Linked DNA regions of Homo sapiens. The protein of the gene in region 2 purifies or fractionates together with the protein of the main gene of each other region. This does not show direct contact. Each region holds a gene or a part of one and is shown on either strand. Other genes may lie near its edges.

The links.
Region 1: the proteins of PRKD3 (region 2) and SH3GLB2 purify together in Homo sapiens (affinity purification with mass spectrometry; one large-scale study listed by BioGRID and IntAct). This does not show direct contact.

The regions. Positions count from the first base shown.
Region 1 is NC_000009.12:129,010,992-129,014,831, reverse strand, and holds part of SH3GLB2 (endophilin-B2), read left to right. Parts: coding exon 1-61; intron 62-328; coding exon 329-421; intron 422-1,812; coding exon of another isoform or gene 1,813-1,824; intron 1,825-2,533; coding exon 2,534-2,596; intron 2,597-3,840.
Region 2 is NC_000002.12:37,254,497-37,259,718, reverse strand, and holds part of PRKD3 (serine/threonine-protein kinase D3), read left to right. Parts: exon of another isoform or gene 1-37; coding exon 38-136; exon of another isoform or gene 137-1,403; intron 1,404-2,789; coding exon 2,790-3,057; intron 3,058-3,253; exon of another isoform or gene 3,254-5,222. UniProt on the Homo sapiens protein: Converts transient diacylglycerol (DAG) signals into prolonged physiological effects, downstream of PKC. Involved in resistance to oxidative stress.

The sequences.
Region 1 (3,840 bases), on a different chromosome or scaffold from region 2:
CTCCATCAGCTTCCTCACACCCTTGCGCAACTTCCTGGAGGGGGACTGGAAGACCATCTCGGTGAGGGCCCTGGGACTATTCCGCTTCCTGGTAACCATGGCAGTTCCCTCCTCAGAGCCTTTGAGTACAGGCTCTCTTCCAGTGCTGGGGCTACAAAACTCCTGAGGCCTCCCCAGAGAGGGCTCCTTTGGACTGAGTGACCTCCTATCTCTGGGCCTCAGTTTCCCTATCTTGACTTGATCGTCCCCGGCACCAATCTTGCCATGCATGGCTCAGGGTCTCCCAGGGCAGCCCAGGGTCTCACTGTCCCCATGCCCTGCCCTGTAGAAGGAGAGGCGGCTCCTCCAAAACCGGCGTCTGGACTTGGATGCCTGCAAAGCGAGGCTGAAGAAGGCCAAGGCTGCAGAAGCCAAAGCCACGGTAGGTGTCCCCGCTCCCCGCTGGCCTCCTGGCCCAGGCTCTGGCTGGAGCCAAGGGGTGGTGGCATGAAGGGACCTGGTATTTGGCATGACCTCTCTCCCCTCTCCCTGGCTGGAGATGCCTGGCTGGGGGCTGCTGGGCTGAGCCTCTCTGTCCCTGCCCTCAAGGGAGCCTTGGTGGCCCCCGAGCTCTGGTTCCCAGGGAGATATCTACGGTGTGGGCGGACCAGCAGTGCCCCCAGCTGGGTGCACCACCCCGCCAGGCAGCTGGAGTCTCCTGCATGCCCTGCCCTGCCCTCCTAGATGCTCGGCTCTGTCCCCGGCTCTGCCCGGGCATGGCACCTTCTTACTAACTCTACTACTTGCTGCTTGAACGTCAGGCCGAGGGTCCCTGTGCTCAGGCGCCCCCACGATGGTGTGGAAAACCTGGGAGCTGGACCGCCCGCTTGCTCAGGGCCGTGTCCGAGGGGTCCCATGAGATTGGATAGGGCCTGGGCCATCTGGCGCCCCCTTCACTCCCAGCTCACTGAGGCCTGTTCAGCCTGGCTGGGTCAATGGGACGCAGCCTGGGACAGTGTGCCCAGGGCGAGGCCAGGATTGGAGGAGCTGGGCCCAAGGGTGAACACCCTCCTGGCACAAGAGGTTGCTCAGGGCTGCCAGGCCTAAAGGCTGCCTCATACCTTGCAGAGGGAACTCCCAGGCCCAGGCCTACTAGGGAGATGGCTACCTGTGGCTGCCAGCTGATTAGCCGAGGGAGGCCAGGCCTAGCCTGGGCTCACAGCTGCCCATGCACCTTGCGTTCCCCTCCCATAGTGTGGCCCCAGAGCCAGCACTGCCCCTGGCGAGAACCGTCTCAGGTCACTCAAGTGTGTGGGGTCTAGATCAGAGGCAGGGGTGTAGTTGTTTCAATCTTGGGGTTGGCTAGGGTGACCTGTGCCTATTGGGATGACCTCTTCTAAGGCACCTGAACAGGACAGTCTCCCCCGTCACTTCGGGCCAGACACCGTCTCTGGAGTAACTCAGCCAGAACACACTCTCTCCATCAGCCAGGCCAGAGGAGCCTTTCCTGTCATTGCAGTGGTGTGGCCTCTCCCTCACCTGGTGGGCCTGGACAACCTCACATCCTGGGGTTGGGCCAGGCCACCTTTCCAGAGCTAGGACTTGGGCAGCCCCAGGAACAGCATTCCAGAGGACTCAAGCTCCACAGCTCTGTCCCCATAAGCACGCACACGTTAGGACTCTTCAGGAGGGCAGGCTGTGGTGCCTCCCTCCGCCCGACCGCCTGGTGTCCCCTCCCACTGGGGCCTGGGGGGCCTGCTCCTGCCTGCGCTGTGGACTCACTAACTCTTTGTTTTTGTTCCTTTCCGTCCTGCTTTGGGTAACTTGGCTCAGTGTGAGGGAGATGTGAGTATACCTGTCCCACGCGCTGTGCTGCTTCCGGTCTGCCCATCTTGCCCGTGGACCCACGGTGCCATGGCCAGCCCACGTCCTTGGGGCATTTTGCAAGCAGCTGGTCTCCCCGCCAGAGCCTCTACTGTGCAGGGCCTCTGGTTTAGGGGGGGATGCCAGGCGTTGGGGCCTGTGAGTCAGCTTTTTGCAAATGTTGGACGCCTGTCACTCTGTCTGCCCATGCATCCATCTGTCCACCTTCATTGTCGGGAGGGGCCTGGCCCTTGATGCAGGAGCAAGAGATGTGGTGTGCGGATTCTGGGATGGAAAAAGCCATCCCAGTTGGGGGTGGGCTGTGTTTGCGGGACCCTGGGGCATCTGAGTGCCACTGGTCTGGGGAGGAGGGGGCTGTGGCCCCTGGCAGGGGAGAGCCCAGCCTGTGACTTGCTCAGGCAGCCTCGGCCATCTCCTCACCGCATTTGCTCTCCTGAGCTCCAGTGCCTGCAGCCACTTGATCTTTGTCTGGACTCTCCAAGTCCCTAGGCCCCTCATCTCCAGGTGGTTGGAGTCGGGAGAAGGGGGTTTGTGTTGTGTTTGTATCCCCGTCCCTGGGGTCAGGCCTCTTGGCATCTCCTTGTGCAAGACTCTGGGGTAGCCTCCTGACCTCGACCCTGGCCCTGGCCCAGGGTGACCCCCTCCCCACATGAACTCTGTTCCCCGCCAGACGGTGCCTGACTTTCAGGAGACTAGACCTCGTAATTACATTCTCTCGGCCAGCGCCTCCGCGGTAAGCGCACCCCACCCCCACCCCACCCCTCGTCCTCCTCTCTCCCCACGTCCCACACCACTGCCTCTGACTGCACAGGAGCTAGAAGCCAGCTTGGGTAAGGCGGGGGCACTGCCATGTGATCAGGTCAGTCCTGAGACACTGGGGAGGGGCAGCAGCCCCCACCTCTGTCCACGGCCTGGCCCCGGTGCCCTGTGGCCATGGAGCTGGACTTGTTTCCCTCTGCAAAACGCTGGAGCTGGCGGCAGGGCCAGCCACACTGAGTAGTGTGGAGAACTCAGGGCGGCAGCTGTCCCATCCCCAGGGCCCCTCCACCTCCTGCTGTCTCTGAATGCCAGGCCCTGGGGAGGCCCTGAGGATAGAGGAGGAGGCCTGGCCGTGCCTTTCTGGAGTTCACAGACCCCTAAAGACAGGAGGCAGGGATGGCGTCGTAGGCCTGGAGAGCGCCTGGGGGGCGGGAGGGCCTGAGGCTGTGCTTAAGGCCCAGAGGTCCTGGAGCAGGGCATGTCTTGTCCTGAGGCTTAGGCAGGGCCCCCAGGGGAGTTGGGGCAGGAGGTGGGGAGGACAGGATCGTGGAGGCTTCGCATGTCATGGTGTCTGTTGGTTTTTAGGCTTTCTTGGGAAGTCTGGTGTTTCCTATGTAGTTTGGGGACTAGGCCACACCTCTCCCTCATGCTTGTCACCACTGCTACACCTTGTCTGCCCACTTTCTCTCCTTCCCGCCCCTGGAGGTGAGACCCTCACCTCTCTCGTGAGCATGCTGCCTCATGTCTTCCGTGCCGTCGTTCTGTGGCTGGGTGACTGTCCCTCAGGCCGCCAACCCTAGTTGGCTCTCACAGCAACTTCCAGTGCTCCTGGACGGGGACTTCCTAAGCAGCATGGGGGCCACACGGGCCGGCCACGCACACTGGCCTGGGTCCGCATTCCCTATTTCAGGCTGTTGTCTCGGGTCAGATCTCCGGAAGCGGCAGGAGCGCTGGGTCTCCTGGTCGTGGCCGGGCAGCGTCTTTCTTCTTCAGGGTCTGGATGCCACTTCCCGCCTCCTCCCTGTGCCCAGTGGAAGGAGAAACATCCTAGAGGGTGGAGACTGCCCTGTTTTTCTTTTGCCATTGAGTCCCAGTGTGACTCAAGCACGAGGCCACCTTTCTCTGCCAGAGGACAGAAAGCTTCAGTGACTGGCCCAGGGTCACACAGTTCTGCCGCCCAGCCCAGCAGCCTGAGCCAGCAGTCAGGATGGGGTGGGG
Region 2 (5,222 bases):
TTCCAGACATTGAAAAGAAAATCTTTTTTCATAACAGATACTTGTTGCTTTGAGGAATCTGCATTTTAAGAATATTGTGCACTGTGATTTAAAGCCAGAAAATGTGCTGCTTGCATCAGCAGAGCCATTTCCTCAGGTGAGATATTCTCCAGAACCTTTTAAATGATTCTGGCAACATTTTCAAAGCACCCACATAATAAAAGGCAGTGTACTAAGTACTGTTGGTTAAAAATGCATACCACCTTACAAAAATAGTTTTTAGCCTGTAACTACCAGTGAGGATTAATAACTAAATGAATTCAGATGTTATTAGTTATACTGTTTATATTCAAGATTTTTTAAGATTTAACTGCACATAGATTCTGCAATTCACCTCTCCCCAGGGGCTGGGAACGAAGTGAGCAAGTATCAACCTTGGTTGGTGCATGGTACTTAGGATAAATACCTCATAAATAAAACAAATGGGGTGTTACTGGAAATGGGAGATAGATTTTGGTTGAGGCAGGCAGCCACCTCCTTTTTCTATGTAGAGTATTGTATTCAAACAACCTACATAAAATAACATTTCTCATCACCACACATACACACAATGGCATCGTGCTTCTGTGTCCTGGCTACATGTAGCACTCTCTGATTTTTCTTAATTCAGTTGAGTTTTTTTTTTTTCCAAGTGTTCATCTTGATCCACTAAATTTATTGCATGACCTATGAAATGGATCATAACCCAAATTCTGAAACAACCATCCTGAGAAATAAGTGGTGGTGGTGGTACCCTGCAGCCATTTTCCATAATTGGCAAGGATGATTCCTCCGATCAGCTCAAATATCTGTTGCCAAACTATTGTTTATATACATTTGAAACATGTACATTTAGACAAATGGCAAGACTAAGGACAACAGATAGGTGTTTTCACTTGGTAAATATAACTCAAATTGTCTTTTCAAATAAAAAGATATATTAAAAATCGTTCAGCTTTTAAAGTAGTAATCATATTCTTTTTATGTTTATGTGGTTAAAAGTGATTCCCTATCATTTTGAGGTCGAAAGGGTTGCCTGATAGTTGGTGCAATGTTTTAAATAAACTGCTTCCATATATTATCTCATTTGATCTTCAAAATAGTAGACAAAAGATGCACACTCCTACTGGTAACATTAAAACTCCCACTTTCTGACCTCTATTTTAGTGATCCACAGTGTTCCAATGAGAAGCAAAGGGAAAATAATGTGATTTACTTGATACGCTTTTTATGCTCAAGTGTTAGCCATGGCTCCACTTCTTTAATCAGTTGCCAAACTTCCAAGTCATCTTTACCTTATCAAGATGTTAGCTGAAATCTGGCATTTAACAACAAAAAAAGAGTTTGTATTTCTTCAGGCTCAGTATTCGTACTCTTCAAAGACACTGAAATCGAGAAGCAGCCAGATTCAGTAATGATTTTGAGCAAATATCATTCATAAAAATATGTGTCAGAGTCCACCATCCCAGAAATAGCAGCATTTGATAACTTCACTTCGTTTTCTAGGCACTGTTTGTACCACTGTTTTCTACAGCTTAAATCTTTTTCCTCTCAATTTATATTAATGCTTTTGCTAAAGACATTTTTTAAGTCAGAGCATTTCCTCCAGAAAGTACCTGGCATTTGCTTGTTCAGCATGGATGTGGTCATTAATCCCCCAGATTTGAGCCTCTAGAAAAATCTGGGCAGCAAGATAAGTGTTCTGAGTTCTGCCAAGCTCATCAACTTCTAGAACTCTCTTTTGAGAGGATGTGGTAGTGACTATGGCTCCCTTTACATATAACTGTTTTCAAATCTAAACATCTAACTAGAAATAATTTGTTCCACAGTGATAGAAAAGTGTTGCTGTTACTCACTGGGGCAGTCTCCAGCATTATTCCACTGGTGTCCCCATTTAAAATTACCTTTAATACACCTCAGTTTTATTTACTTGCCAGTTTATAACATCCTTAGGAAAAGAGATTCTAGGATTAAGCAAAACAAGGGATGTTTTTAAATACTGTAACTTTTTTTTTTTTTTTTTTTTTTTCTTTTGAGACAGAGTCTTCACTCTGTCGCCCAGGCTGGATTGCAGCGGCGTAATCTCGACTCACTGCAAGCTCTGCCTCCTGGGTTCACGCCATTCTCCTGCTTCAGCCTCCCAAGTAGCTGGGACTACAGGCACCCGCCACCACGCCAGGCTAATTTTTTTGTATCTTCAGTAGAGACGGGGTTTCACCGCATTAGCCAGGATGGTCTCAATCTCCTGACCTCGTGATCCGCCCGCCTCGGCCTCCCAAAGTGCTGGGATTACAGGTGTGAGCCACCACACCTGGCTAATACTGTAACTTATTTTTCCTTCAGCAAACATTGAGTACCTTTATGTGTCCAGGCACTGTGAGGCCACTAAGGATTCAGAAATGAAACAATTCCTGCTCACAGATGATGGAAGAGTGATCTTACAAGACAAATGATAGAAAGCAGCATACTCTATTTCATAAGAAATCAGAACACTTATAACACCAGTCTGGTATTTGGTATTCTGGAAGCTAGAACTTTTGAAATATGTACTAGGAAAGCTCTTCATACTGTGTCAGTCAGGATCACAGGGCTATAAATGTGTCTGCCTTTTGAGAAAAGGATATTTTACAATTTCCTTATCTGTGATTAATATTCATAATCAGTAGAGCTGGCAAGTATGTTGAAATGATACATACAGTGTTATATTTAGGGACAGGTAGTTACATATATAACACTATAATACAAAATTAACATCATCCTTCAATTTCCAGGTGAAGCTGTGTGACTTTGGATTTGCACGCATCATTGGTGAAAAGTCATTCAGGAGATCTGTGGTAGGAACTCCAGCATACTTAGCCCCTGAAGTTCTCCGGAGCAAAGGTTACAACCGTTCCCTAGATATGTGGTCAGTGGGAGTTATCATCTATGTGAGCCTCAGTGGCACATTTCCTTTTAATGAGGATGAAGATATAAATGACCAAATCCAAAATGCTGCATTTATGTACCCACCAAATCCATGGAGAGAAATTTCTGGTGAAGGTAAAAAAAAAAAAAAAAAAAAAAAAAAAAAAATTTTGGCTATGTGTTTTAAGCCTAAACATCTTTCTCATCCCAAATCAGTCTGTCTCTTGCAACTTATCTTTTTAGTACATCTCCCATTCATCTTCCAAATTCAACTAGTTACCAGTTTTTTGAGCACTCTTCTTTTTATACTTTTATCTGTGTCTTCTGTATAGTTCCCAGGCATAGCACTTACATAGGCCCCAGTGGCCTCATTGTCAAACCACTAAAATATCTTTTTAACTGTCTTACCTGTTAAACTCTTTTCTGGTCCTTCCTAGTCACTACTGCCAAATCTATCTTCAGGAAACATTACTTTCATTTATGGTGCTCCCAAACACTTCTCTTTAACCACCTTACAGGCATAGTTATCTGTGATATGGTCCATGCTTACCTTCTAGCCTCATCTCCCACTACTCCCTACACAAACCTAGTTGTTTACTCTTCTGAACTGTTTTCTGCAATTTGCTTGGGACTGTTTTTCCCTTGTCTACAATCCTTCCTATTAAAATTCGAGGACCCCTTAATTTGTGGCTCATCTATAAAGTTCCCTGACTACTCCTCTACACTGCAGAATTTACTTAGGCTAAAAAACATTTGGGCTTTTTTATTATCTTTTTTTATTTTTATTGAGACGGGGTCTCCCTCTGTCACCCAGGCTGAAGTGTGCACAAACACAGCTCACTGCAGCCTCGACTTCCTGGGCTCAAGTGATCCTCCCACCTCAGCCTCCTGACTAGGTGGGATGATGGGTATGCACCATGGGCCACCCACACCTGGCTAATTTTTAAATTTTTTGTAGAGATGGGGTCCCACTATGTTGCCCAGGCTGGTGTCAAACTCTTGCACTCAATTGATCTTCCCAACTTGACCTCCCAAAGTGCTGGGATTACAGGCATGAGCCACTGCACCCAGCCCCATTTTTTTCTTAAGTATTCATTCTTTTCATAATTGACTTTTCTAATCTTCAGAACAAGACTGTGAGCTCCGTGAATGAATACCTAGCTCCGGTTCCTTATACCTAGAATGAACTTTATAATCACCAGACACACTGCAGTTTGTTTTCCTCTCTCCTGTGGACCTCTGCTGGGAAGCTGCATACATCTCTTTTTCCTGCCTAGTGAAGGCTTTTGAATTTGCAACTCCTGGTTCTGTACCCGTCAAGAATAAGTTGGCTGGCCCTCTTTAGTCTGCTGATACTGATAGGAAGGACAAGTACACTACTTAAAACATTATTTAACTGCCCCATAGAAGTTAATAGAACCAGTGCTGGGGAATACCCCCATCTGGATTTAACCAGCCCATGTAATAGGTAGATCTTTTTTGTTTTTCCAAAAGTACTAGGCCTAATCATAGGATTAACTAATATTCCATCAAACTGGGAAAAGTTTAAGAACAACATGTGAAGACAGTAGCAGGTTTGCTTGGTAATGAAGAAAGCTAATTGAAGAAGCTCATAAGAGATGTTTTTTGATGTTAACCAGTGTTATCTCAGACCTCCTGAGGCAGTGTGTTCTGTAGACCTCTTCTATCAGAATCACTTTGCTAGTTTGGTAGTATAGAGACAAGAAATAGAACTAGGATGGTACAAGTCTTTCCATTTGGTTCGTGTCTGGGTCTAGCCTTTTGTTACCAATATTTCAAATGTACCATTATATAGGGCTGTAGTTAGTATGTAGTTATTGGTTGCCTTGGTTTTGCAATTGATCATTCTCCAAATAAGTGAATAAAATATATATACCAAGAACTCACCATGTACACTAAAACACCCTGAAACCTATTTGTTAAAAGTGTAAACTTTTGGTAGTTAAGCTACCACCTCAATGTGACCATATATAGAGGCAAGGCAGTGCCTTTCCAGACCAAGTCAGGGACTAGAGTGCTCTCTAGCATTGGAGCGGGGTGGGGAGGATCAGAGAGTCTGTTTCATTCATCTTCAAATAATAATAGTTAATACTTAGCACTTATGTGCTAAGCACTGTTCTAAGCCCTTAACATATGTCAGCAACTTCATGAGGAAACTGAGGCATAATATAATTTAGTAACTGACCCAGTATCACACAGCTAGTAGGTGGCAGAACCAGACTTCAGCCCAGGCAGTCAGGTTCCAGAGTATATACTTTAACCTGTACTCTATACTGCCT